Linked DNA regions of Homo sapiens. The protein of the gene in region 1 purifies or fractionates together with the protein of each later gene. This does not show direct contact. Each region holds a gene or a part of one and is shown in the gene's direction. Other genes may lie near its edges.

What was found.
Region 2: the proteins of TUFT1 (region 1) and RABGAP1L purify together in Homo sapiens (affinity purification with mass spectrometry; 4 studies listed by BioGRID and IntAct, with this or other methods). This does not show direct contact.
Region 3: the proteins of TUFT1 (region 1) and CREB1 purify together in Homo sapiens (affinity purification with mass spectrometry; 3 studies listed by BioGRID and IntAct, with this or other methods). This does not show direct contact.
Region 4: the proteins of TUFT1 (region 1) and RABGAP1 purify together in Homo sapiens (affinity purification with mass spectrometry; 4 studies listed by BioGRID and IntAct, with this or other methods). This does not show direct contact.

The regions. Positions count from the first base shown.
Region 1 is NC_000001.11:151,564,292-151,571,319, forward strand, and holds part of TUFT1 (tuftelin), read left to right. Parts: intron 1-233; coding exon 234-323; intron 324-1,871; coding exon 1,872-1,937; intron 1,938-5,365; coding exon 5,366-5,479; intron 5,480-7,028. UniProt on the Homo sapiens protein: Involved in the structural organization of the epidermis. Involved in the mineralization and structural organization of enamel.
Region 2 is NC_000001.11:174,155,539-174,162,522, forward strand, and holds the start of RABGAP1L (rab GTPase-activating protein 1-like), read left to right. Parts: upstream 1-3,981; 5' UTR 3,982-4,119; intron 4,120-6,984. UniProt on the Homo sapiens protein: GTP-hydrolysis activating protein (GAP) for small GTPase RAB22A, converting active RAB22A-GTP to the inactive form RAB22A-GDP. Plays a role in endocytosis and intracellular protein transport.
Region 3 is NC_000002.12:207,553,939-207,560,966, forward strand, and holds part of CREB1 (cyclic AMP-responsive element-binding protein 1), read left to right. Parts: intron 1-1,689; 5' UTR 1,690-1,697; coding exon 1,698-1,811; intron 1,812-5,183; exon of another isoform or gene 5,184-5,317; intron 5,318-6,287; coding exon 6,288-6,434; intron 6,435-7,028.
Region 4 is NC_000009.12:122,944,007-122,951,034, forward strand, and holds part of RABGAP1 (rab GTPase-activating protein 1), read left to right. Parts: intron 1-1,325; exon of another isoform or gene 1,326-1,426; intron 1,427-7,028. UniProt on the Homo sapiens protein: May act as a GTPase-activating protein of RAB6A. May play a role in microtubule nucleation by centrosome. May participate in a RAB6A-mediated pathway involved in the metaphase-anaphase transition.

The DNA.
Region 1 (7,028 bases):
GCCCATATAACATATTACACATTTTACTTATTTGTCTTTTGTGTCTTGTGTCTCCCCAACAAGAATGTCAGCTGTAGCTCCACTTGACCAAGGTCCCTCCCTCCATCCTGCAGCCAGTCGTTAGGACAGTGCCTGACTCGCAGTACAGGCCAGGGATGGGGCACAGAGTTGGGTGAGTTGGCATGCTCTCTTTCTCTACCCTAAAGCTCAAGTTTCTTCCCCTCCCCTCCCAGGCCAGGAACTGCCTACAGAAGCTCCGGGAGGATATAAGTAGCAAGCTTGACAGGAACCTAGGAGATTCTCTCCATCGACAGGAGATACAGGTAATAGGAAATGGTCCATGGTTGGGTCCCCACCGAGGAGGTGGGGTTGTGCCAGGCAGTCTCATTTACCAATTACCCAGTGTGTGCTAAATCTAGCATCCCTGCCAGGAATGGAGAAAATAGAGGTGATGCTGGCTTCTCTGGAGCACTCACAATCTGGTTAGGACTCTCCAGCCGATGAGCACTTACATTTACACATGTCAGCTTAAACATAAGTACACCTGCTCCTGAAACACTGTACAGAAATTGAACTTATATAAATTAAATATCATCAGTTGTTAGCAAACCTCTTATCTATAAGGATTCTGTGATCAAGCTTCTTATAATAATAGAATTTTGTAAAGCAGACAATCACCTGTAAATCCACACTTCTCATAAGCTGATCTTGCTTAGTTTGGGTGATACCTGTAGCGTAAATTGAAGTCCGTGCCCTAGCCTGTTATTAATCTTGTATATAGTTATGTCTAACCTGGGATGGGAAGTTCCTCAAGGTTAGGAGTTCACCCCACCCCACCCCACCTCGTGTCTGTATCCTCACCCTCCCATTCCCCCCAGGTCTGGGATGTAGAAGGCATCAGTAAATGTTTGTTAGACTGAACAGATTGGGTAAGTCTTTCCTGGGAGGGATAATCCTGGGATCCTGCTTTTCAGTTTTTCCAAAACTCGAGGACAGAAATGTCCTCAGGAGAGCAGAGCTGTCTCTTTGTGACTTCGCCCTCATCCTTTAGATTCTGAGTTGTATCCTTGATTTGCATTTTGGTTCAGGCAGAGTCTTGCTCCAGCAGCAGCCCCTGCCTTCATTCCCTTGAGGGGAACAGTGGCCCAGCAGCTGGTGCAAGGAAAGTTCTTTGTCTTGGGCATGCACTTGTGTGGTGGAAATTACCTAATTTTTGCTTTGGCTGAAGGTAGGTCTTTCAGTGCTTGAGCTCACATCTGGCTGGTGGGAGCTACTTTGTCAGGTATCAGAAGAACCTAATGTGTGCAGAGACTGGCCCAAAGTCCAGCCCCCTTGTTTGCACAAACCGGCTGTCATATGATGAATAATCAGGCTTTGGGTCAGAAATAATTGAAAAAGATCTTCCCTTTGTAATTTTTGCTTTGTCAAACTTTATCAGGATCCCTGGGGGCAAGGGAAGCTCTTTGTTTGTGGCAGGCAGCTGCATGTATTCCCTGGCTAAGAAGAATGGGCTACACATACTTTTCCATCTGCTGAAAGATTTTAGCCTGAGGTTTTTTTCATCCTCCCTACAAGACTTTCAAGGCCCTTTCAAGGCCGCATAACATCTCTCCACCCCCTCTTGTTTCTATTTTCTCATGGAACGCTAGAAATCTTTTCTTCTTTCGCTTCGTTCCTTCTTCCTCTTCTCCTTTCTTCATTCCTTCCTTTTTCTCCCTCCCTTTCTTTTTCTCTCTCCCTCCCCCTCCCTTTCACCTTCCTCTCCCTCTCCCTGTCCTTCTCTTTCTAAGATTTGAGTGTTAGGAGAATAATGTTTCAAAGTTGGTTGCTTTCATCTGTTTTAACTACCAATTTTATTTTTCTTTGAACAGGTGGTGCTAGAAAAGCCAAATGGCTTTAGTCAGAGTCCCACAGCCCTGTACAGCAGCCCACCTGAGGTAGGTAACAGAGGACACCATGGTGGCTCCGCTTAGCCAGGGGCAGGATTGCCTCCTCCCCATCCTTTTGTTTATTGCTTTCTCTCTCTCTCTCTCTCTCATTAAATACAAGAGTAGTAGTTGACATAAAAATTCAAACACAGAGAAATACAAAGAGTAGAAATTCTCCTTCCCCAATCTCTCTCCTTGCGAGTATCCACTGTTAACAGATTGAAGTGGGTGGATCTTTCTAGGGCAGTGCTTCTCAGCCTCAGCTGTTCATTGGAATGGCCTTGCAAGCGTTAAAGGATATGATGCCTGGGTCCCATCCCTAGAGCTTGTCATTTCATTGTTCCAATAGGTGGCCTGGGCATCAGGACTTTTAAGAGCTCTTCAGGTGATACTAATGTTTAGCTAAAGTTGAGTGCCAGTATTCTAGAATATTTTTATATACATAGACAACCATATTTAAATATCATGTATATGTTATATACACACCATATATACATGATAAATATATGTATATAATATACATGTGCTTTTCTCAACTATAAGATCATGGTAAATACATTATTCTTTGCTTGCTTTTTTTTTCTTAACTAAAGAGTATATTATAACCTTCTTTCCATGTCAGTACATATAGATCTACCTCATTCTTTTGAATAACTACATAGTATTTCCTTCCATGGCTGTACTTGATTGATTGACTGATTGATTGATTGATTGACTGACTGACAGAGTCTCACCCTGTCACCCAGGCTGGAGTGCAGTGGCAATCATGGCTCACTGCAGCCTCGACCCCCGGGGTTCAAGCAATCCTCCCACCTCAGCCTACCCAATAGCTGGGACTATAGGGCACGCGCCATTATGCCTGGCTAATTTTTGTAGAGATGGGGTTGCCCAGGCTGCTCTTGAATTCTTGGGCTCAAGTGATCTGCTTGCCTCGCCTCCCAGAGTGCTGGGATTATAGGCATGAGCCACTGTGCCTAGCCTACTTTTTAAATTTTTATAATTATTATTTTTTGGGACAGGGTCTCCCTATGTCATCTGAGCTGGAGTGCAGTGGTGCAGTCATGGCTCATTATATTCTCAACCTCTTGGGCTCAGGTAGTCCTCCTGCCTCAGCCTGGGAGGGACTGTGGCAGCCACTATAGTGGCTGGGACTATAGACACGTGCCACCACACCTGGCTAATTTTTGTATTTTTTGTAAAGACAGGGTCTCATCATGTTTCCCAGGCTCATCTCAAACTCCTGGGCTTAAGTGATCTGCCCACCTCGGCCTCCCAAAGTTTTGGGATTATAGTCATGAGCTACTATGCTTGGCCTCCATGACTGTACTTTATTTGTTATTTTTTGAGATGGAGTCTCGCTCTGTCACCCAGGGTACAGTGCAGTGGTATGATCTTGGCTCGCTGCAACCTCCACCTCCTGGGTTCAAGCAATTCTCGTGCCTCAGCGTACTGAGTAGCTGGGACTACTGGCGTGAGCCACCACGCCTGGCTAATTTTTGTATTTTTAGTAGAGATGGGGTTTCACCATGTTGGCCAAGCTGGTCTCGAACTCCTGACCTCAGGTGATCCTCCCACCTTGGCCTCCCAAAGTGTTAGGATTACAGGCGTGAGCCACTGCACCCCGCCACCATTACTGTATTTTTAAAAAGTGTGTTATTATGTTTTTTTGTGATTATACAATACAAAACATTCATATTGTAGAAAATTTGGAAAATTCAGAAACACAGGAAAGTGAAAGAAGAAACAAATATCACTTGTAATCTACTCAGAGAAAAACCACAGTGAAATTTCATCTTTCCCCGAATGCAAATATATATTTACCATGTGAATACATTGTACAGTATGTAGCATTTCTTTATAATTTTTTTTTTGTTTCTTTAGTTGGGTATGTTTTTGCATTCGGTGTTTTTGGCCCTCAAGTATAGGTTGAATCAGACCCACCCATTAGTTCATGACACATCATCCTCATGGGTCCTGTCAAGGCCTCTCACTGGTTTCAGTTTTTTGTTTTTTGTTTTTTTTGCCTCTCCACCTCCTGCAAGAGAAACTCACTCTAATGAATTCAATATATGGCTTTAAATATGCCTGTAAAATGTTCAGTATACATGATGAACTTGTGCTATATCTTCTTCCCTCTTTGTTCTTGTTTTCCCTGGTACCGTGTTTTTTAGGATCTATCTACATTGCTGTATTAAAATCTAGTTCATTGCTTCTGCCTCCTACATGTACTTTTATAACTTACTTTTTTGCTTCATGTTATATCATATGATGAAATAATATTTTCATGAAAGTTTTCCATGTCATTAAACAGTCTTATGAGAACACTCTTTGAAATAAGTGCATAATAGCTGTGTTCCAGGAACCTTTTAAAGGCCATTGGCTCAGGTGAGGATTTAGGGAAATTGACTGGATAACTCATGACATCTAGATTTGGAATGCTGTGATTCTAACCACTTGCTTTAGATGGGCAGCTTGGACTTTCTCCTTCTTTTGAATCACCATATTTGGCAAATACATTGTTGGCAACAAATTATAATAACACCTGGTAATATCTGTTTGGCCTCTTTCTTCTCACAAGCTCAAAGCTGTACCGGATGTTATCTTACCTAGTTTTGAGGCAGCCTGTAAGGCAGGGTGTGGTAGGGAGTGTACTGACTGCCTCACAGATAAAGAAATGAAGGCCCACAGGACTTCACTTCTTCATTATCACCCACAGGATGATGATGCAGAGACTGGGACACTGTCTTCCTCCAGTGTCTGGTGCCTGTGCAGCAGAGACGGGGGTGAGACCCTACATGTTAGCTCATCTCTAACCACCAGCCCACAGTTGGGTGTGTCTGGGAGAGACTGAGCAGTTACCTCGATGAGACACCTTTTTCCACATCGAATCAGATTCGTGGACTCATTGCATGCTTTTGCCCTAAACCTGTCCATCCATCAGTAACCCTTTATATGCTGCTGTCAGTGCCAAAAGCTGAGAATGGTAAAGGATGTGCTTTTGGACCACTCCCTTTGTGATGGGCGCGACATAGTCCCTGTCCTGTGGGAACTCTAGTCCAAAGGGGAACATGGTCTCTGCTCTCAGAGAGCTGTAGGCAGATAGAGGGAAGCAGGATGCACACCTACAGACAGCATCCACATATTCACCAAGAAATCGATTAGTGGATACATACATGAAATATTACTGAGCATGTCCTAAAATAATTGGGTGTTTTGAGGCTAGCAGGGTTCTTTAGGGTATGAAGGGACAATGTTTCATTGAATAACTCAGAATTCCTGGCTGCCTAAGGTAACTCTCCCCTTGTGTGATGACAGTTCTTTTTTGAGGGTGGTCTGGACGAGATGGTCCAAACCAGTGTGTGCCTGGGAGGGGGGACCTTTTCTTACTGAGTCAGAAACTTGAGGGCTTCCCCTTCCCTTCCTTGTTCTGGCTGTAGGTGGACACCTGTATAAATGAGGATGTTGAGAGCTTGAGGAAGACGGTGCAGGACTTGCTGGCCAAGCTTCAGGAGGCCAAGCGGCAACACCAGTCAGACTGTGTGGCTTTTGAGGTGAGATTTGGGATTTGGGGAGAAGGTGCCCTAAGGGATGGGCTACTGAACACAGGTGCCAGTGATGTCTCAGCTTGGACTTCCTGTCTTTCTGGCTGAGTGCCACAAACTGGAAAGGCAAGGCTGTGAAGCCTGGAACGCTTGTCTGCTTTTCCCTCTCCTGGACGTTTACACTGTTTACTGTCCAAGGCCAGCCCATAGTTCAAAGGTCAGCTCGGGATTCTCTGCTCTGATGAGTTTGAGGGTGGTGCCCATCTGGGGCAGCCGGTGATTCAGAAGTCATTTCTGTCTGTGTCGTGGTAAGAATCCCTGGGCTCTTGAGACTCCGTGCAGGCAAGGACTGCTGCTGACATGTCACCCCCGAGTCTCCAGTGTCTGGTGCAATACCTGGTATTAGATAGGTGCTTCATAAACGTGGACTGGATGAGTGACTAAATCTGTGTTGTTGTAGAAAGAACTGTACCCATCGAGTTGGAGGATTTGGGCTCTAAACTCAGCTTTGCTATGCAGAGCTTTGTGGTCTGGAATGAGTATCTTTTTTTCACTCTGCTGCCAAGCTGGAGTGCAGTGGCGCAATCTTGGCTCACTGCAACTTCTGCCTCCCGGATTCAAGCAATTCTCCTGCCTCAGCCTCCCGAGTAGCTGGTACTACAGGCATGCGCCACCATGCCCAACTAATTTTTGTGTTTTTAGAAGAGACGGGGTTTCACCATGTTGGCCAGGATGGTCTCGATCTCCTGACCTTGTGATCCACCTGCCTCAGCCTCCCAAAGTGCTGGGATTACAGGCACGAGCCACCATGCCCGGCCTGGAATGAGTATATTAATTATTGTTATAATACAGAAATCTATAAATGGAGAGTAAAAGCCCCCTACTATATGTGAGGTCTTCCATATTTTCTAGAAAATTCTTTGAGTATAAAACAAGGTACATGGGCAGTTTTCTTTCTGTCTTTGGAGACAGGGTCTCACTCTATTGCCAGGCTTGAGTGCAGTGGCATGATCTTGGCTCAATGCAACCTCCATCTCCCGGACTCAAGCCATCTCCCACTTCAGCCTCCTGAGTAGCTGGGACAACAGGTGCACACCACCATGCCTGGCTAATTTTTGTGTTTTTTGTAGAGACAGGGTCTTGCCATGTTGCCCAGGCTGGTCTCAAACTCCAAGGCTCAAGCAGTCTGCGTGCCTTAGCCTCCCAAAATGTGGGGATTACAGGCATGAGCCACCACACCTGGCCCATGGGCAGTTTTCCAACTGCTCTGTGTGAGGTTAACCATCTGTTACCTGCTTTTGTTCTTCCACAAGTAATGTATTCTTTGTGTTATAAATATGTTATGATAGGGTTATAGCCTGCCTAGGCATGCTAGGAGCTGGTAAAAAGAGAAAGGCCAGCTTGAACTCTTCATTTTCATGGAACTGAGAAGGAGAATTTTTGAGAAGAGGCTTGGCGGTGAGGAGGAAGGGCACCAAGGATGATAAACTGCTTCTATGTTAGCCGAAGTATTATTTGAACAAGTAGTTTAACCTCTCCAAGCATCTGTTTCAACTTT
Region 2 (6,984 bases), about 23 Mb from region 1:
CATTATGACTTGTCCAGATTACTCTGAATTTCAGCCCTACATAAAACCGTGAAATAAAAAAGGTTTTCTTCTGTATCTCCAGTTTTACCTGTTACATCTTTCGCTCTCTCGGTGATTTCTCCCTTCCTCCAGTAGCCAGTGCCTCTTTTCCAAATCTTCCTGTTAGTAAAAAAAAAAAAGACTAAAAAATCATGTGATAAACTCATTTATATAAGATTAGTGATTCGAGTCATGAAGTGCTCTTCTTGGGCAAAGTTGATTTAAATAGGGCACAGGATTTAAGTCAAAGTGAAAAAAAAAAAAAGTGTAACGATGGGCTTTCAGGCATCAGGTAGCCCAGTCAGGGAAGGATTTTTTGGTGTGGTCAAATTCCTTTCAAGACCCTGTAAAATCTTGCCAGACAGCTTGTTACCTTTCTATCATTGGAAACGTATCCTTGGAAGAGTCATATAATGCAACTAAAGTTATTTGTTCCATAGTATGCATGGAAAGATTTAGCTTTATCTGTAAGAAATACAAAGCCAAACTCGAACCTTCTTAAAAAGCTGTCAAAATCAGGCCGGGCACGGTGGTTCACGCCTGTAATCCTAGCACTTTGGGAGGCCGAGGCGGGTGGATCACCTGAGGTCAGGAGTTTGAGACCAGCTCGGCCAATATGGTGAAACCCCATCTCTACTAAAAATACAAAAATTAGCTGGGCGTGGTGGTGGGCACCTGTAATCCCAGCTTCTCAGGAGGCTGAGACAGGACAATCGCTTGAACCCGGGAGGCAGGGGTTGTAGTGAACCGAGATTGCGCCACTGCACTCCAGTCTGGGCAACAGAGTGAGACTGTTTAAAAAAAAAAAAAAAAGCTGTGAAAATTTATTGTCTCAGAGGAAGGGGTAGGCTTCAAGCTGGGTTTGAGTGCTTCCATCATGTGTCAGCTTCATCCTCAGGCTGGCTTCCTCATGGTAGCAAAGTGGCTGCAGTAACTATTGGACTCACATCTACCCATCACACTAGCCAGAGTAAGAAAAAGAGCACTTTTCATTTCCCAACAAACACAAGATATGGCCTTCCATGTGACTGGCACCAATTTAGACTCATGTCAGTGCCTATCAGTGAATACTGACAGGTCAAGTGAGAATGGGATTAGGCTGATTATCACAATCACTGTCCACACCTGGAGCGGGAGATGGGCCTAATCAGATCCTTGGCTGTCTTGCAATTGCAGAGGGGTGGAAATATATTCTGGGGAATCAATCAATATAATGCTCACTATAAAATCAATATGATATTCTGTACCATTAGATACCAGTTTAAACTCTTACATTATTGTTCAATGTTTAACTTGTTTCTAATTTTTTTTTTCTTTTTTGTGGAGACAGGGTATTGTTATGTTGCCCAGGCTAATCTTGAACTTCTGGGCTCAAGCAATTCTGCCTTGGCCTCTCAAAGTGCTGGGATTACAGGCATGAACCACTGCACCTGGTCTGTTTCCAATTTTTGATATTACATTTTAAACTAGGAGTTGCAGACATAAATGAGAGAAACAACACTGTAAGATACAATAGAGAATGTAGAGACTTTGGCAAAAGAGAGAATGCATGTCCTGCAGCTGATCGTTATCATGTAATAATGTAAGCTCACTGTTACCAAATCTTCCACTTTTTAAAGAGAAGCCCAAAATGCATGTATAATCTTCTGGTTTTTAACTTTGGATATGTGTTTTTTTAAGCACCATGTATGCCAAACAAAACATGTTTGTGGGTTTGATTTGTACCTGGGGCACCAGTTTGTCATGTTATGAATCATGCTGGAGTATTTTATAACACCATCTCTCAAAGTGAGAGTTTCAGTCCTTTCATGGACCAGGGCTGCTAGGATACGCTTAATGCAAATGAAGCCACAGTGGAAAGAGAAGTGAGCAGCACATACCACATGAAGAATGCTTTGTTATTAATTTTTTATTCCTTTTAGTTTCTCGACTAAAAGCCTGAAGATCTGTTAATAATTTTTTGGCATGTGCTTAGAATTGTTTTTCTGGTGGTAAGGATGAGTTTGCATCAGATCACCTTAATTGTCTTTTATCTAGGTTCTCTCATGACTTGTCTCTTATCTATGTTGTACTGTGAGGAAAAGTTCAGTTTTAAAGAATGACCCCTGTTGATGAGAGGTGTTACATGTGGCCATGGGACAGGATTTTTCTTTTCCTTATAGCAAGTTGGCACATGAAGATAGCATGCTCCACTTAAATAGAAGAATTAACTCGCAGTGGCCAGTGGTGTCCACTATTGCTTTCAAAGACATATGGAACTGAATTTGGGGAACACTAAACTTGTTTTGGACTTGCCATTTTTTTTTTAAATTCTTTTTTAGCTAAGTTACCTATTGAATGCCCATAATTACCACATCCATTGTCCTTTTTTGTCAAAAAGCTTCACTCCAGTTAGAAGATACCTGAAGGCAGAAACTGCGGCTTTGTCAACTGTTGATTTCCTCATGGCGCGCAGTGTAAATTTACTAGTACTTTATTTAGTAGAGGCTTAGTACTTACTGGTTGGCAGATTTATTAATAGTTCCTGTACATCTCAGGAAATCAACAGATGATTTATGTTATTCTAACCCTAACTTTATTAAATATAATAAAAACTTTCAGCATTTATTGTCAGGCCCAGGGCTAGGTAGGCTCCTGAGATACAGAAGTTAATAAGGGAAGCAGCCCAGAAGGTAGGGGAAACAAAAAAATAGTTACAACACTCTTGATATGTCTCAGCATCTATAGACATTAACATCAGGAAAAGCGGGGGTGTGGGGGGAAGGAATTTGTCAGGGAGGGCCCTTTGGACAAATGTCACGTTTCTCAGAGTAGCTTTTAAATATGGGTGGGAAAATGAGGGCAGGGGAATTGAAGTGGGATAGAAGGGAGATATTTAAACTAAAGTCATTCTATGGCTGCAATCACTGGACACTATATTCACTTATCCATGCAATCACATTCATTGAGTGCTTCCTATGAGTTAGGCAGGGTGCACAGTGTAAGATACAAATGAATGATACAGGTTCACAGCGGTTGTCTAGTGGGATAAAATGCTGCACAGGGCAACCTGGATAAGCCTGACATGTTAGGTGCCACAAAACTACAGAACAAAGTGCTAAGGAGATTCGGAAAATTTACAGGTCATTTCTGGTTGCAGGATCTAGAAGAAGGATGTCCACAATTCAAGGATCAGTACAATCTTCGTAGCGAAAAAGCGTTGGTTTATTCTACCTCTACCTAGTTTGTACCTCAACATCTTTTACCCCAAAGGATAAAAAGGTGCAAATGAGGGCACATTTTCTTCATATAATACGTAATGGTGCTTACTTATTGCTTTCCTGTTCATTCCCCGCAGGTGATTTCCCTCTTCAGTCTCCCCCGAGTCTCACAGAAGGAACTAACAAGGGAGCGCTTCACAAGCACACAGACACCTTCAAACAGGCGCAGAAGAGTACTTGGTGAAAAAGTATTCTTTCAGGTGACTTTCCTTAAGATTACTGAGCATTAAGAATGAAAATATGTAAACCAGGTTTACGAGCAAGAAAATAATCTCTCCACATTCAGAGTTAATCTTCCGAACTCAGCAACTGCCAGTAGAACGCACCCCGGTCAGGGCGGGCTCGCGGGCGCGGTCCCACCCCCAGGCCCCTCCGCCGCGGAGGTTCTCCAGCGCCGCCCGTACTCCCGCCTTTCGCGCGTCCCTGCTCTAACAGCTCTGGTTCTGTCAGGACCTCACTCCTCCGCTCCCGGCGCAACCGCGGCCACGCAGCGACGTGCACGCGCGTGTGCGCCGCCGCCGCCCGGCAGAGTGGGCGCCTCCGACATCAGGAGCGCGCACGCCGCGCAGAGGGGCCTGGACGAGCGCGCTTCCGACCCGCCGCCACCGCCTCCTCCCCTCCTTCTCGGCCCGCCCCCTCCCTCGCCTCTTCCTGCCAGGCGGCCCTTCTCCCCTCCCCTCTCAGTTCCCTCCGCCCTCCTCGGGCTCCAGCGGTGGCGGAGCGAACGGGACCGGCCCGGCTTCAGAGCGCGAGGTGGAGGGTGGAACGCGGGCGCCTGAAGGAGTTGTTGTCTCGGCAGCGCCCGCGGAGACGTGAAGAGGTGAGGCGAGGACGGCCTCCTAGGGACACGAGGGCGGCCCGGCGGCCCGGATCCGCGGGCCGAGGCTGCCTGGGTGTGTTGGCGTCGGGCTGAGCCTGGGGAGGGTCGAGATGGGGCCCCAGCCGAGGACTGGGATGCGGGAGGACCGCGGTAAGGAGGGTAGGGGGCGGGTTCAGGACTGTCGGCCGCCTCCCGGACACCGCAGTTCTCCCAGGTGGCCGCTCCTCGCGGATAGGGCGGGCGGGGTCGGCGCCCTTACCTGGGGGTGGGGTAGTGGCTTTGGCGGCCGCCTCCTCCAGCTGTGCCCTCCTGACATTGCTGCCTCGGCGGCTGCCGCCCGCTGCTACGCTGTGGCTGCTGCTGGATTCGCAGTCCCAGCCGCCCTGCGTCCGGTGGGCGAGTGGTTAGGGTATTTTCTTACCCACACGCAGGCTTCTGTACTCGACCATTTCTCTCCCTCGCCCTTCCTCTTCCTCCGCCGAGCACTTTGCTCGGCTCCTGCTGTTGATGCTTGTGGTTTTGCAGTTTGGGATGGGATGCGTTCCGGGCAGATCCCTACCTGTAGGGAATGCCCCGCTTCAAAGTTGACCTCCTGAGCCATGACAAACACCTCCCCCCAACCCCCACCCACCTTGTGAGTGCTCAGTGTCCTGATAACTGAGTCAAAGTTTCTGAGACTGGGCTAGTACTTTGCACTGGTCGCCAACGGTACAGGGCTGGGCAGTGCGTCAGCATGTGGAAAGGGGCCACCGGCTAGCGGGAGGTGGCCGGGTGCATGGGAGCTGAACTGACGGGTTTCAGATACTAGGCAGTGTGTCCAGGTCCTTGGATCTCTCAGATAGGGTTATATTAGAATATGTACCAAAACTTGGGTGGTCACTTGCAAAATTGGTTTCATGCAAGTAAACTGAAATGCCAGCCTTATTACACTAATGGTAAGGAGAACTTTTGCTTGCCTGACAGATTTCAGCGCAGTTTGGAAAATGATTTTAAGGCCTTTATTTTTGGCACTGGAGGGGTTTAGGGATTTTTAATACATTTAAATTTCCTCGTGCATAGTGGGAGGTAAGTAGTTGCTTGTTAAAATTCTGAAAACACAGTTTCATGAAAACCTTCTGACTTTTCTTACAGTAGTGTTTATATTTGGCATCTTCCGTAGAATATCCATTAGTTATGATGTCAGAAGATACGGATGTGAAGTTTGCTTTTTGTGATCACATTGGAAGTGGATTTTGTTCATGGAAAATACTGGTTCACAAGCTCCTAGTACTAGAAAACTGGCCTGTGATTCATTTTCTCAGTAGAGCGTCCCTTATGAAATTGACAATGAGATTTCTAAGGAGAAAGACTAGTTGAACTTTATGTATACATTATCATCAAATTGTATTAAATGTACACCTGCCTGAGGGGTTAGCTCTAGACTTTGAGTTAGACTGGTGTCTATACTAAATCAGTTCAATAAATGCGCTGATATTATGTATTATTCATTTGGAGAGAAGTAGATAAAGCAGGGCAGAGTTTATATTTTAACATATTATGTAGCCTACATTTGCTCTGATGTGTATTATTATTATTATTATTATTATTATTATTATTATTTTTGAGACGAAGTTTCGCTCTTGATGCCCAGGCTGGAGTGCAACAGCGCGATCTCGGCTCACCACAACCTCCGCCTCCCGGGTTCAAGCGATTCTCCTGCCTCAGCTTTTTGTGTAGCTGGGACTACAGGCATGCGCCGCCACGCCTGGCTAATTTTGTATTTTTAGTACAGACTGGGTTTCTCCATGTTGGTCAGGCTGGTGGAACTGCTGACCTCAGGTGATCTGCCCGCCTCAGCCTCCCAAAGTGCTGGGATTACAGGCGTTAGCCACAGCGCCCGGCCTCTGATGTGTACTAGTAAGTCATATGGGGAGAAGTAGATGAAATAGGGTAGAGCTTATATGTGAACATATTATATAACCTACATTGTCCTCTAGAAAGCTGGAAACAAGTTAGTAAGTCTCAGTACTATTGGGGCATATGGTGAATATACAAACCAACCTAAAAAAGTGTGACTGTAAATAGATGAAGTTTGTTTGTTTCTTTTAAAGAGACAAGGTCTCGCTCTGGCGCCCAGGCTGGAGTGCAGTGGCTCAGTCCTAGCTCACTGCAGCCACGAAGTTCTGGTCTCAAGAGATCCTCCCACCTCAGCCTCCTGAGTAGCTGGGACCACAGGCACATGCCACCAAACCTGGCTAATTTTTTGTTTTATTTTTGTAGAGTCAAGGGTCTCACCATGTTGCTCAGGCTAGTCTCCAACTCCTGGCCTCAGGCAGTCCTTGCGCCTCAGCCTCTCGAAGTGCTGGGATTACAGGCCTGAGCCAACGGTGCTTGTCCCATTTTTTTTTTTTTTCACCTGAGTTATTTGATGGGAATTTCTATATATTACAGTTGCGATGTTCTGAGAATTTTTGTTTCTTTGATAATTGTTTCATGATTTAGATGTTTTCTTTTTACGCTGGTAGTTATGATTTTTTTTTCCTTTGAATGAAAGAATTTTATTAGGCATGTGAAACAGGAGTTTTCATGTGATCAGCTCTCCAGTTCTAAATTTGTGACTTTTAAAAAACTTGAATTTTTTTCTTTGCCTTAACCCAAACTTGAATTTGCTCAGCCATTGTATATTTATTTGAACTCTCAGATGATACAGCATTGAAGCAGAAAGTCCTTTTATCCATGCTTTTGGAGTAATCAAAAGAAGGAATTCTGTTGTGCCAAGTAAAAATATGTGTGGGAGATAGCTAGGCTTCAAGAGATTGACTTTGAAGAGAGTAGTGGCTAAGTAGCAAAAATTTCCTATATTGAAGGTGTAGAAGTGGGCCTGCA
Region 3 (7,028 bases), on another chromosome or scaffold:
TCTATTTTACAATGTGTCAATATATTAATTTTTTTTCATGGTTACAATTTTGTAATGGTTCTCTTAATGATGGATAATTGTTTTCAGGGGTTTTTTTGCTATGATTTAAAAAATTTTACAGTGAATACTGTTGAGCTACATCTCTGGATATTACTATCGATTATATGGTCAGTGCACTTGTGGCTTTATGAATATTTTAAATAATGTAGTCAAGTCTGTTGATCTTTTTCCTTGTCATCTGTGTTTTGTGGATTTTGGTATTTCCAAACTATATTCATTTCTACAGAGTTATTTTCATTTCCATTTTTTGAACTGTCACTTGTAAAACACTTTCTTTTTATAGAACCTTATGAGTGATAGCAAGATGTATTAGTATGTAATACATTGTGATGGAGTGTAATGATCACAAGGATCAGTGACAGTTTTGATGACCAATTTCAGAGTTATAAAATAAATGAAATATATTCTGGAAAAGTCATGGGCTTTTTGTGTTGTTTGTGGAATCACTAAAGGTAGTCCCTCACTATTAACAAATTTGTTTTGACACATAATATGTGAGGCACTGAATTATAATAGGCACTAGAAACATTGCCTATTTTCCTGAATCCTTTAGACAGGATTGCTTCCCCAGTTACCAGAGATTTCTCTAACCTTGATTTACAGTAGCTACTGCTGGTAGGAATTGCTCTCCACTCCACTTTTGCTGCCATCCAGTGTTACATTACCCTACAAATATACTAAGTGCTTAGCAAAGCAGAGTCCAAATGTAAGATCAATTTTTGTCTTACCCAGAATTTTACAATTAAAATATATAAATAAAAGATTTCTCTGTGTGTGGATGTATGTGTACAGTATAGTGTTGCATGCTATACATGGGGTGAGGTATCAGAATGCTTTTTCAGTGTTTGGCACCTCTAATTTGGCTCTGTGGCCATTTATTCCACCTTTCTACCTTGAAATTCCACAACTTGGGCTCTTGAAATTACCTGGTATGGTGCAATGCACGTGTATTCTCAGCTACTCCAGAGGCTGAGGCGGGAGGATCACTTGAGCCCAGGAGTTTGAGGTTGAGATTGAGATGAACTGTGAGAACATGCTACTGCACTCCAGTCTGGGCAACAGAGCAAGACCTCATCTCTAAAAAATTTTGGGCTTGAAACGGGCTGATTTTGTCCTACCACTAGTAATCACTTTTAGAAGTAGCTTACAATTGCTGTTTCTTCCTTCTTATGGGGGGAAATACCCTTATAGGAGGTATTATGAAGCCAATATCTAATAAACTCTGTCATCATTAGCTCACTTCCACTCTTCTGCCATCTCTCTGTACCTGATTAGTATAGTTTTGAAAAATTATAATTTTGCTACCACTGCACCTCTCCTTGTTAGTAGGGGAGATTTATGTAAGAGAAGAATCTTTTATTTCTAGACAAGGTAATATCCCATTGGGAAGAAACAGCCAAGGGAGAAGAAATGTTTTTTTCTTCTTTGAAGGGACTAGAACTTTTATAGCTCAGCAAATTTGAATAAGTTTGATGGTAATTCAGCTACATTATATTTTAGCTAGATTTCTGAGTTCATTTGGTAACCTAACCACCACATATATACCTATTTATAACTTGAAATTTGCCTTTAAAGTCACGAAAGCACAAAGCACTGTGGTGCTTGTAACACTCTTCCATATTATTATAGGTAACTAAATGACCATGGAATCTGGAGCCGAGAACCAGCAGAGTGGAGATGCAGCTGTAACAGAAGCTGAAAACCAACAAATGACAGTTCAAGCCCAGCCACAGATTGCCACATTAGCCCAGGTATAAAATACATGGAGAGATTCCAGTTTGTGTCTCTTCCTAGAGGAATACGTTTCCAAGAGAATTTAGTTGTTATTACATAGATATACATAGAATGAGCAGAGATACTCTTACAATATCAAAATTCCTATTTACTTAGTATTAGAGTATATTTAGAAATGATAGTATTAATTCAATAACAGTAAAATGTATTATTAAACAATAATACAGTATTTTTAGTGAAATGATCCAGAAATAATTACATTTTAAACTTATGGGTAAATGGTGCTCTCAGATAAGGGAAGAAAACCTTGGCTATGTATGACAACTGCTTTTTTTATTTTTTTAATATGACACAGATTTATTTTTTAACAGTGGGAATGCAGATAATATGAAAGCCTAAGTTTATATAACTAAACTAAAAATTAGGATAAGCAAATAAATTGACATGTAAGGAAATTTTAAGGATGATAGCAGTTTTTGTTTCCTGTATATTTTAAATATAATTTCTGATTCTTTCATTTCATCTTTCTCTTTAACATCCTATCTTTAAGAATATTTTCTCTCATTCTTATGTTTTTGTTTGCATGCATTCTCCTCAACTATTTTATTAACAGCTGTTTACATAGATAGGAATGAGAAAGGTGGTTAACTTAAAAAACAAATAGCAGATACAGACCTGCTAGGTAATAGTGTGATACCGTCTCTTTCAGATGAAGGTTCCCAGGAGAATATAATCCTAGCAGAAGCTCTGATATATGTAGCTTCAGTTTCTCCAAGAGTTTAAAAGTTCCTAGAGAAGTCACCTAGCAAGAATGAATCATGGGAAATAGAGGACTCACCACACTTGGGTGTCTGGCTGAGGTAGTGTGAGCCAGATACTGGATTTCCAGCAAGAATATAGTCAGAAGGAGTGAGCTGTTCTGTGTTTTCTCCTAAGACCACCAGGGTTTACCTCCAGCCTTCAGGAATAAGACAAAGCCAAATACATCTAATGTACTCATACGAGGCAGGCTGCAGGATTGAAGGGGAGAGAGCCAGGACTTCCATCAATATAGGGTCAACAGATAAGAATCTGGGCTCATCTGTATATTTTGCCCTTTAGAAAGAGGAAGACACAATGCTAGGCCGGGCGCTGTGGCTCACGCCTATAATCCAAACACTTTAGGAGGCTGAGGCGAGCGAATCACTTGAGGTCAGGAGTTCAAGACGAGCCTGGCCAACATGGTGAAACCCCATCTCTACTAAAAATACAAAAATTAACCAGGCGTGGTAGCACACACCTGTAAATCCAGCGACCTTAGAAGGCTGAGGGAGGAGAATTGCTTAAGTCCGGGAGGCAGAGGTTGCAGTGAACTGAGATTGCGCCACTGCATTCCAGCCGGGGTGACAGAACAAGATTCCCTCTCAAAAAAAAAAAGAAGATGCAATGCCAGCAGGCTTCTTTATGATGATAGCCCTTAACACATCTTATCTCTGGAGTCACACTATTTTGTCCAGTCTGGTTGTCCCCAGAGTAGGCTGTATTGTGTCATCCTGGGAATTCCTTTCTCCCTACTTCCATTTTCTCACAGTTTGTGTTTTTGATATGGTAAAGCATGTTTTTCAGTGGTTTTATGAGAAAGAAAGGTTGGCTGAGTAAAGATAGCATGTTATAAAAATTGAATGTATGGGCCGGGTGTGATGGCTCACACCTATAATCCCCACACTTTGGGAGGCCGAGGCAGGCGGATCACGAGGTTAGGAGATTGAGACCATCCTGGCTAACACAGTGAAGCCCGTCTCTACTAAAAATACAAAAAAATTAGCTGGGTGTGGTTATGGGCTCCTGTAGTCCCAGCTACTCGGGAGGCTGAGGCAGGAGAATGTCATGAACCCGAGACCGCACCACTGCACTCCAGCCTGGGTGACAGAGCGAGACTCCATCTCAAAAAGTAAATAAATACAAATAAAAATTGAATGTACATGTGCCTTAACATCTAGAAGATGTACAACAAAAATATTAAAAGTGATTAGCTATGGGTGATAGGAATATAAAGGGTTTTTATTTTATTTTTTATATCTGTATTTTATAAATTTATAATGAGAGGAGCCATTATATAAAATTATTAGTGTAGAAAAGGGATTATTCATTGAGTTAGCTAGGTATATTTTCCCTAGAGAAGACTCAGGAAAGAGAACATAGTAATTGCTTCAAATATTACAAGAGCATTTATATGGAATTGAGATGAGATACTCTGAATAAGGTTATGGTTCTCAAACTTCAGTGTACGGGAAAGTATGATTGGGTTCCTGTTAGAGTTGACTTTACAGAGTATCCTGTGTGACTCTAATGAAGCTATTCCATGGACCACATTTTGAGAATCAAATAAAACTAAGCAAGATTTATAGTGGCCAGAGAGAAAGTGATTAATAAGTAAGGACTTTATTACTATCCAGAGATGGAAGCTTCTGGTTTTACCCTATATGCCAAAGACACTGTCTTTATAGGGATCTTCCCCCCAGGCTTCACAGTCACATATTTCGCTGCCTGCTAAAATAAACATCTCTACAAATTCAGATGTCAGAGTAGTTTCATCATCTTCCATTACAACCCCAGTCACCCAAAAGCCTATCCTTACTTCTTGCATTCTCTTTTTCAATTAAGGACAGTCTGCCAATTCTCTTTCAGACATGAAACATTGGGTCATCTGCAGTTCCTCTCTCACCTCTTTTAACTATTCATAAAGCCCTTTCTGGACTGCTTCCAAATTTTCATAAAATCACTTCCCTCGTTCCCATCTCTACTACTACTAACTGCCCTCTTTTTGGCCTTCATCATCTTTCCTTAACTACTTCATGGGCTTTCTTCGTTGGTCTCCCCACCACCAGTTTTCCCCCTGAAATATATATCTTTCACACTGCCACTAAAGTGATTTTTTTTTTTTTTTTTTGAGATGGAGTTTTGTTCTTATTGCCCAGGCTGGAGTGCAATGGCGCGATCTCGGCTCACTGCAACCTCTGCCCCCTGGGTTTAAGCAGTTCTGCTTCAGCCTCCCAAGTAGCTGGGATTACAGGCACCTGCCACCATACCTGGCTAATTTTTTGTATTTTTAGTAGAGATGGGGTTTCACCATGTTGGCCAGGCTGGTCTCGAACTCTAGACCTCAGATGATCCACCCGCCTCGGCCTCCCAAAGTGCTGGGATTACAGGCGTGAGCCACATTGCCCGGCCTAAAGTGATCTATCTAAAAGCAAACATCACCATGGTATTCAGGAGTTCAAAAGCCCTTCAGTGGCTTCTGCAATACCCTCAGGATAAAATGCAGTTTCTCTGAGGTGACATAATACAGGCTTTTTGTGACTAGCACATCTAGCCCCACCTGCCTCTGTTGTTTTCTCTCTCCCTACTTCATACATCATACAGTAACACACTTATGTGCACCATTGGTGCTGAGCTGCTGGTTATCCCACTCTGCCATGTGTGCTGTTTCTCTTTGCTTTTGCCACTACTCCACTCTGTGCTTGAAATTCTGTGACTCTTCCCTGTAAGTAATAATAACAAGTCTAACTTTTTTCTTTTGTTTTAAATTCACATTCTTCCCTGATAGCCTCCCCTTCTCTTAGGTTGGGTAGAGTAATTCTCAGTGTGTCCATTTTTCTTTTAGCAAACCTCATTACTAAACTGAATTGTATTGTGTCTCTTTTCCCCATTCCTTCGCATACATACCCCCAATAATTTATTTGAGGTCAGAGACCCCTATCTTTCTCACTTTTGTAGTTTCAGTTCTAACATTATTCCTGGAACATAGGTCCCCAATAACTGTTTCCTGATTTAGCAAATAAAATTCCTATCCTTGAATGTGTTCAAGCATAGGAGCAATAAATAACATCTGATAGACATGTATGATTTAAGGACCCTTTTAACCTGGGTATTGACTCATTAAAACTGCCTTAGTTCTAGACTTAGTAGGTCAGGTTTGCTTATGCTTGAGAGCAGTTAGATTTTAGAACGTGACTTATTTAACATGATATTCTTTAGAATTTTATGTTTCTTCAAGGATAGTATATCTGTTGACCTTGGGTGAACACTTAATCTCATTGAGCAGTTATTTGTGTTTTTAAAAATGGAGATCCTTATCACCCAGTCTTCAGTTTCTTCAAATAGCAAAATCAGAAATTGGAAATGAAAGCAGGTGGGAAAATGTAAAGTGCCATACAAATAAAGTGATATCTCATGTTCAGAGAGTCTGTATTACATATTTGGTATAACATGGGAATAGTTTTTAATTTTTTGTCACTTGGGAAGAGCTGAAAAGGATAGGGGTATAGTTTTTGGTGTTTTTTATAGTGTTTTTTCTTAAAGAATATTAAATTTAGTCATTACTTTCATATCAGTGAAATACATATCTAGCAAAAAGGTCACGTTTTTGCTTCTAAAAAGTTATTTCATATTGAACATGAGTACTGCCAAAGAGTGTCTGGGATGATAATTCTTTTCTGTGTTCAACACCATAGGTATCTATGCCAGCAGCTCATGCAACATCATCTGCTCCCACCGTAACTCTAGTACAGCTGCCCAATGGGCAGACAGTTCAAGTCCATGGAGTCATTCAGGCGGCCCAGCCATCAGTTATTCAGTCTCCACAAGTCCAAACAGTTCAGGTATGTGTATAAAAAGTTCTGCATCTATTTTAATAACTTTTGTTTATAGCCATATCTCTCTCCTTTCACTAGTTATGAAAATAAGGACACATCTAGTTCAGTTTATTTTATTCACAGTATAGGAATATGCTGCATCTGTATAGTCACCTTATGTATAGGAACATATATACAGAAGAACAAACATAAAAGAAAATGACTAATTTCTTAAGCTGCAGAGGAAAAAGAATTGATTGGGGAAAATAATGAAGTACATGAGATAAAGTGGAAGTGTTTGGGAGAAACTGTAGGACTGAAGTACCTCAGTCGAGGAAAATTGAGATGCAAAAATAGTAACTAATTTTCTAAATCTGCAATTGGAGAAAAATATACCCTTGATCAAAAATTAATAACCTTACCTAAGATATTATTTGACCTTAGAGATTACATAAAGCATTTGTAAAATCAGCTGTGCTTAGGGTTTTCAGTTACAGTGTGTAACTTTGAAATAATATATTCAGAGGTTACATCTTAAGGGTCAGGAATTATACTATGCATGTTATCTAATTCTTTGGAGAGATCTTTCCTTTGGGTTTGATCCACAGGTAATAAAGGCAC
Region 4 (7,028 bases), on another chromosome or scaffold:
CCTCCTTTGGAGGTCTCATTATTTCCCAGTAGTTTTAACAAGGAATTTTTGAATACAGTTTTCAGAAAATAGTTTAAATTGGTGCTACAGGTGAGTATCTTTGTAAAAACACTGGTTTGCTAAGGTTCTGACATAGGCTGCCCATAATGTTATCTTTGTAATTTCAATATAATCAGGTATCAGTAGACTTCTCAAGCATGTGGAATAAATGAATACAACACACTTTTTTTTTTTTTTAAAAGAGATAGGGTTTTGTTCTCTTTCCCAGGCTGGAGTGCAGTAGTGCTGTCGTAGCTCACCTCAACCTTGAACTTCTGGGCACCAGTGATCCTCCTGCTTCAGCCTCCCAAGTAGCTAGGACTGCAGGCACATGCGACCACACCCAGTGAATTTTGCTATTGTTTGTAGAGACTGGGTTTCACTGTGTGGCCCAAGCTGTTATCAAACACCTGGCCTCAAGCAATCCTCCCACTCTGGCCTCCCAACGTGACAACACTCTTAAATAATCTTTGTTTGTTTCTTTTTTTTTTCTTCTTTTGAAACGGAGTCTCACTCTGTCGCCCAGGCTGGAGTGTGGCGGCACGATATCAGCTCACTGCATCCTCCCAGGCTGGAGTGCAGTGGCGTGATCTCGGCTCACTGCAACCTCCGCCTTCCGGGTTTAAGAGGTTCTCCTGCCTCAGCTTCCCGAGTAGCTGGGACTACAGGCGCGCACCACCACACCCAGATAATTTTTTTTTTTTTATTTTTAGTAGAGACGGGTTTTCACTATGTTGGCCAGGCTGGTCTCGAACTCCTGACCTCAGGTAATCCACCTGCCTCGGCCTCCCAAAATGATAGGATTACAAGAGAAAGCCACCGCGCCCGGCCTAAATAATCTTTCTTAGCAAGACTATACTTCAGGGATCGTTCCTATAGTTTGTTAAATAATGTTTCTTGGAGATAGAACTCAAATATTTAAGAAGTGCTCATTTAAGGTACGTAAAGCAGAATTTGGCATGACATTTTGGTGCTTTGTATGTAGTTACCTTGTTTTACTGAGTTTACATAGTTAGATCCCACTGAAAAAAAATTCAAGGCTCAGGACTTAATGCCCGTGAGTATGCCTGGAAAAACACCATGTATACATCATAGCTGTTGCTTTTTTTTTTTTTTTTAGCATAAACTGGTTACCTAGTCATCCCAACCACCCTCACCCCTCTGTTTTGTGTTGATCCTGAGATCATTATTCTTTAGAAACTTTGTAACAATATTGGATAGACGTTTAAGCTTACATTGTAACCATTCACGTTGACCCTAACAGCCTTGTTTCTCTTCATGTGCAGACTGACCAAATATGGAAGTGTGCAAGTCTTGAACACATTAGTTTATACAATGTGGCCTGAAAGTTTCCCTCCTCTTTCCAAATCAACCATAATATTCTGAGGTACTCAGTGAGAATTTTTTGAAGATTGTTTTCTATCAGACTTTTCCCCCTAAATCCCTTTTTCTGATCACTATACAGTGAAATAAAGCCCTAAACCTACTTTTAAGCTCCTGCCTGACATTAAATAGTATGTATGTATTATCTTGGTTGTAAAGTATGAGAAATATATCTTCTTAATTGTGTACCTCTCCAAGAATTAATGCATAGTTGTTATGTATTTCCTGTTAAGGTTGCATCAGCATTTGTGTTATAAACTACTACTCCTTGGGTTCTGTAAGTCTTTGTGGAAATAAATTTTTCTCTGTACCTAAATCTGGCATTTCTGAAGGTACATTAGCAAGTGAGTTTCTGTGGTAACTTTAACATAATGTTACTAAGTCAAACTTTAACAACAATTTGACTGTTTTAAAACTTTCTCCCTTTTTCCCTTATTTATGCATTTTGGTAACTAACCAACAACCTATGGTTTATAATTTTGTTTTCCATTTTCTGAGGATGATCTTTTATCAGTTAAGGAAATGATATGCAGAATCCTTTGGGAATATATTTTATTTTTTAAGACTACTAAAGTGCAGTAGTGAGAACGGGGAAAAGAGTAGAACAAGGAGTTTGTTCTGTAACTGACTGAACAATCGAGATAACTCACTGTCTTTGGACCAGCTTTGGGAGTATATTTTAACTATCATGAAGGATAATACGAGATAGCATACTGGAAGGCACAGAAAACACGTATCTTCTGCCAAACATTCATGGTTTGCCTACATGCATTCCCCTGAAAATCAAACAGGTCATAGAAAAGACAAATTATATTTCTGCATTTATCTTAGACTTTGATCATCTGTTGAATGATTTGCCTGCTGAGTTTTAAATTCATGTAGATTAAAGAGAAGTGAATAATACATTTTAGATCTGAATGTAAACAGATGCATATTCTAAGTGGAATAGATTCATTTTCTTTATTGTAGATGAGAAGGAACTATATTGACTAATTTCCTAAAAAGAGGAAAAGTCTTTGACTAACCCTGCGTTGCTTAAAAATACTCATATTTTTACATTTATTAAATGCTAATGTAAATTATACTGTAGAAATCTGAACAGTTTTTAAAATCTGTACTAGCAAGTCAGGAATATAATCTGACCTTGTGAATGAGTAGTACATTAACATTAAGCTGACTTTCCCTGTGTTCCCAGGGATAGCTTCTATTGTGGACGTGGAATCCAAATAACAATTTAAATATTTAGTTTCACAGATATTGTGTTGAAATGGCATTAAGCCAGCATATGTAGAGTTCTGGAAAAAATTAAAGTGTGTTTCCTGAAATATCCATGGGAACATGAGAAAACCATTGGCAAGATTTTTTTCAGGTGTCAGCATTATCACACTCATAATTAACAGAGTTAAATGAACTCTGTTTTATGCACATTTCATCCCTACTTGTTACCTCTTGTACCTTTCATTAGAAGTATGAAGTATCAAGATATAGTGGGGAGAGTATGAACTTTGGGGTGAGAAAGACATGGATATCCCAAGTCTCTGAGAAGGAGTGATTAAGTAGCTTATCCTCAGAAACTCCATTTTTAAACATGGAGCTACTTACATCTACCTCATGGAACTGTAATGGAAAACACCTGATATCCCCCCTAAAGACCCTATAAAGTTATAATTATTTTGAAACTTACTTTTATTGAAGGATAAATGTGGCATACATACATTGAAATATTATTCAGCCTTAGGGAAATTGTGACACATGCTACAATATGAATAAACCTTGAAGACTTATACTAAATGAAATAAACCAGTTATGAAATGATAAATATTGTGTAATTCCACTGCTTATATGATACACCTAGAGTAGTCAATTTCTTAGAGATGGAAAGTAGAATAGTGGTTTTTGGAGGAGGAAGAGAATAGGGAATTAGTGTTAATGGGCACAGAGTTAAGAAAGGAAATGTTCCAAGGATAGATGATGGTGATGGTTGCATGACAATGTAAATGTATTTAATGACACAAAATTGTACACTTCCGTGGCTAAGATGGTAATGTTTGTGTTATTACTTAATCACAATGCAAAAAGATTACAACTTATAAAAAAGATGTTTTAAAGTTTTATTTTGTTTTACAATTTCCTGTATTTGTTTAATTCCGATATCTTTTTTAGTTAATGTAGAATTGAACTAAAAGTGATTTAATAGTTTAAAGAAGTAAATTGTCACAGTTACGGTAGGCTCAAATTTGCCTAAGCGTGAGTTTTAGATAAGCTAGTTTTTCTTGCCTTTAAGTGCAGGTAGGCCCAAGATGATTGTTTTGATTCTTTTGGTTTTGGTTTTGGTTTTTTAACGTAACCTGAAATTAATCAGAAAGCTTAAATTATTATGATTCTCTTAGCTCACTAAAATAATTCAAAGAAATAGTCTCAAAATTCAGAGTCAGAATGAAAACAAAGACATCTATTGTTTAGCAGTTAGTAGTGGTGGAAAGGAATTTATTTTTATAAAGAAGGGATGGTGTTCCATTGAGTTTTGTTTGATTTGTCCCACCCTTTCCAGGGATAGGCTGTGTGAAATTCATGTGAAAACCAGTGCAGTGAAACAAAGTTCAGAGCCAGGAAAACACACACACACACACACACACACACACACACACACACACAAACTGAAACTAATGCAATGTGATTTTTTATAGCTTCTTTGTACCCTGCTTGTTTAATTTTAAAGAGCTACAAACCCACAGGAATTATCCTGCTACAGCATCTTTCAGACTTGATTCTTTTGTTGCATCCTGTCTTGTTCTTTTTCTAAACAGAGAGTAAACTCACCAGATTTGTGTTTTAGAAGGGTACAACTGGGAGCAGCATAGAGGATGGATTGGAATTGGGAGAGGATGGAGATAGGGACATCGAGAGGGAGAGAGATGCAATCCAGAAAAGAACAGAGACACCTAGATACTTGGGTTTGGATCAAGTTCCACAATTTTCTCTCTGAACTTAAGCGAGTTACTCAGCCTGCCCAAGCCTTAGTTTGTCTGTCATATGAACTTAATACCCATCTGGCAAGGTGTGAAGATTAGTAATAATGCAAGTAAAACTTGTTCGTACCATGTTGGGCATATAATTGACACTCAAGAAGTAATAAGTATTGTTTTCTCTTTTGATTTAGCAAGATGATTTAGTCATCTTGCTTAAGATTCCCTAAAGCTGTACCCATTTTTTCACTGGTTGAGCAACAAAAATGATGGGGATTGGGAGGGAAGTGGTTAGTGTTTGGTCCAAAGGGAACCCAAGGTATATTTTTTGTGACTGTGTTAACTGTTTTTTGATCATGACAGTTGGGGATTTGATGAAGAGTTTAGTCTTCATCCATGTCCACATCCCCAGTACATGCATGTAGAGTAGCATGTTTGTCATTTGTTTTCCTCATATTACTTAGACCCTACTAGTTAAACAGCCATGAAGTATATTCAACCAACCAAATTTATTGAACACTGCCCGTAAGTAAGGAAATGAAATTACTACGAGTAAAACATAAGACCCCTGTCCACAAGTAGTTTGGGGGACTCTTTGTGCCCGTTATACTCCCAGCATTTGACATGGTGGTTTATACTCAGTAATTGCTTCTGGAATGAATGGATTGATCAATATAGCGGAGTAGAAAAGAAGCGTTGGGCTAGGTGCGGTGGCTCACGCTTGTAATCCCAGCACTTGGGGAGGCTGAGGCAGGTGGATCATTTGAGGTCAGGAGTTTGAGACCAGCTTGGTCAACATGGTGAAACTTCATCTCTACTAAAAATACAAAAATTACGGCTGGCTGCGGTGGCTCACACCTGTAATCCCAGCACTTTGGGAGGCCTAGGTGGGTGGATTACCCGAGGTCAGGAGTTTGAGACCAGCCTGGCCAACATGGCGAAACCCCGTCTGTGCTAAAAATATAAAAATTAGCCAGGCGTGGTGGCGGGCACCTGTAATTCCCAGCTACTTGGGAGCCTGAGGCAGGAAAATCGCTTGAACCTGGGAGGCGGAGGTTACAGTGAGCTGAGATCATGCCATTGCACTCCAACCTGGGCAACAAGAGTGAAACTCCATCTCAAAAACAACAATAACAAAACAAAAACAAAAATTAGCTGGGCGTGGTGGTGCATGCCTGTAATCCCAGCTATTCAGGAGGCTGAGGCAGGAGAATCGCTTGAACTCTGGAGGCAGAGGTTGCAGTGAGCCAAGATCATACCACTGCATCCAGCCTGGGTGACAAAGCAAGACTCTGTCTCAAAAAAAAAAAAAAAAAAGGAAAAAAAAAAAGTGTTGATATTATTTTACTGTGTGGTAAATGCTATAATTCTGTGATGAACTAAAAAACAAAAAGCCTGAGGAGCCCTAGAAGACAATAACACTGCAGAAGGGAAAGGGGGAGGTTGAATACTTGATTGTATCCACTAGGTTGCTGTTGGTGGAGAAAGGCTGATTGCGGAAACAAAAACACATTCCCAGCTGAGCAAGCAGCATATGAAAAGGCTTGAAAGCATTAAAATGCATGACATATTTGTGTATATAGTATGGTGTGACAGAAGAAGATAAGACTAGAATGGAAATTGGCTCCAGATTTTGAAGAACTAAATAATACAAGGATTTTGGATTTTATTGTATTTTCAGTCAGGAGCAATAAATAGTTTTGAGGAAAGGGGAGGTATGGGATATATGATCAGATCTAAGTTTTAGAAATTAACTTTGGGGGCTAAATAATCAATGACTAGGAAGAGTCTAGAATGAAACACTTGTTATAGCCAGGTTGAAAGAGAATAAAATACAAGTCAATGACATGAGGGATAGTGAAGAAGGAATATATTTGGGATATGTTTTAGAACTAAAATCCATTATTCCAAGGGAGGGTGAGAAAAGGAGGAGTCAAGATTTGTTTTGGTTTGGTGTCTTTTTTTTCTTTTTCTTTTTCTTTCTTTTTTTTTTTTTTTTTTTTTTGATGTTGTTTTGAATCTGTGGCTGTTAACCAGGATAGAGAATCTAGAAAGAAGAATCTGCTGACGCGTGGGGATTAAATGGTTTAGTTTTGCAAGGAATTGGTTTTGAGATGACCATAGGACGCATATAGTAGAGCCCTGCTGTGTATTCTCATAACACCCTTTACACACCTCTGTTATAACAAGCACTATATTATAATTACCTGTTTACTGGTCTGTTTTCTCTACCACTGTAAGCCTGTCAAAGGTAAGGAGTGTCTTTTATTCCTCACCATAATTCTATACCTGGTGTCTGGCACATATCAGACTCTTTGATACTGAATAGAAGAAAAAGAAAATATAACACAAATACCCATGTGGAATTCAAGAGAAAAGACAGTGCTAGTGTTATCAGCATACAATAGAAAGCTGTAACCATGTTAGCTAATGAGATAGCCAGTGAAAAGAAGGACGATGATGTGATTTTAAAAATAGAAGAAAAGGAACCTAAATCAGAACTAAGAAAAGATAGTGGTAGGAAATGGATGCAAAAGGATAAGAGTTTCAGAATAAGAAAATGGCCAGCATTTTCATTTACTTCAGCAGGTGGAAGTAAGAAATAATTCTTTGGGTTGTGAAATTTTGTAGTATTGATGG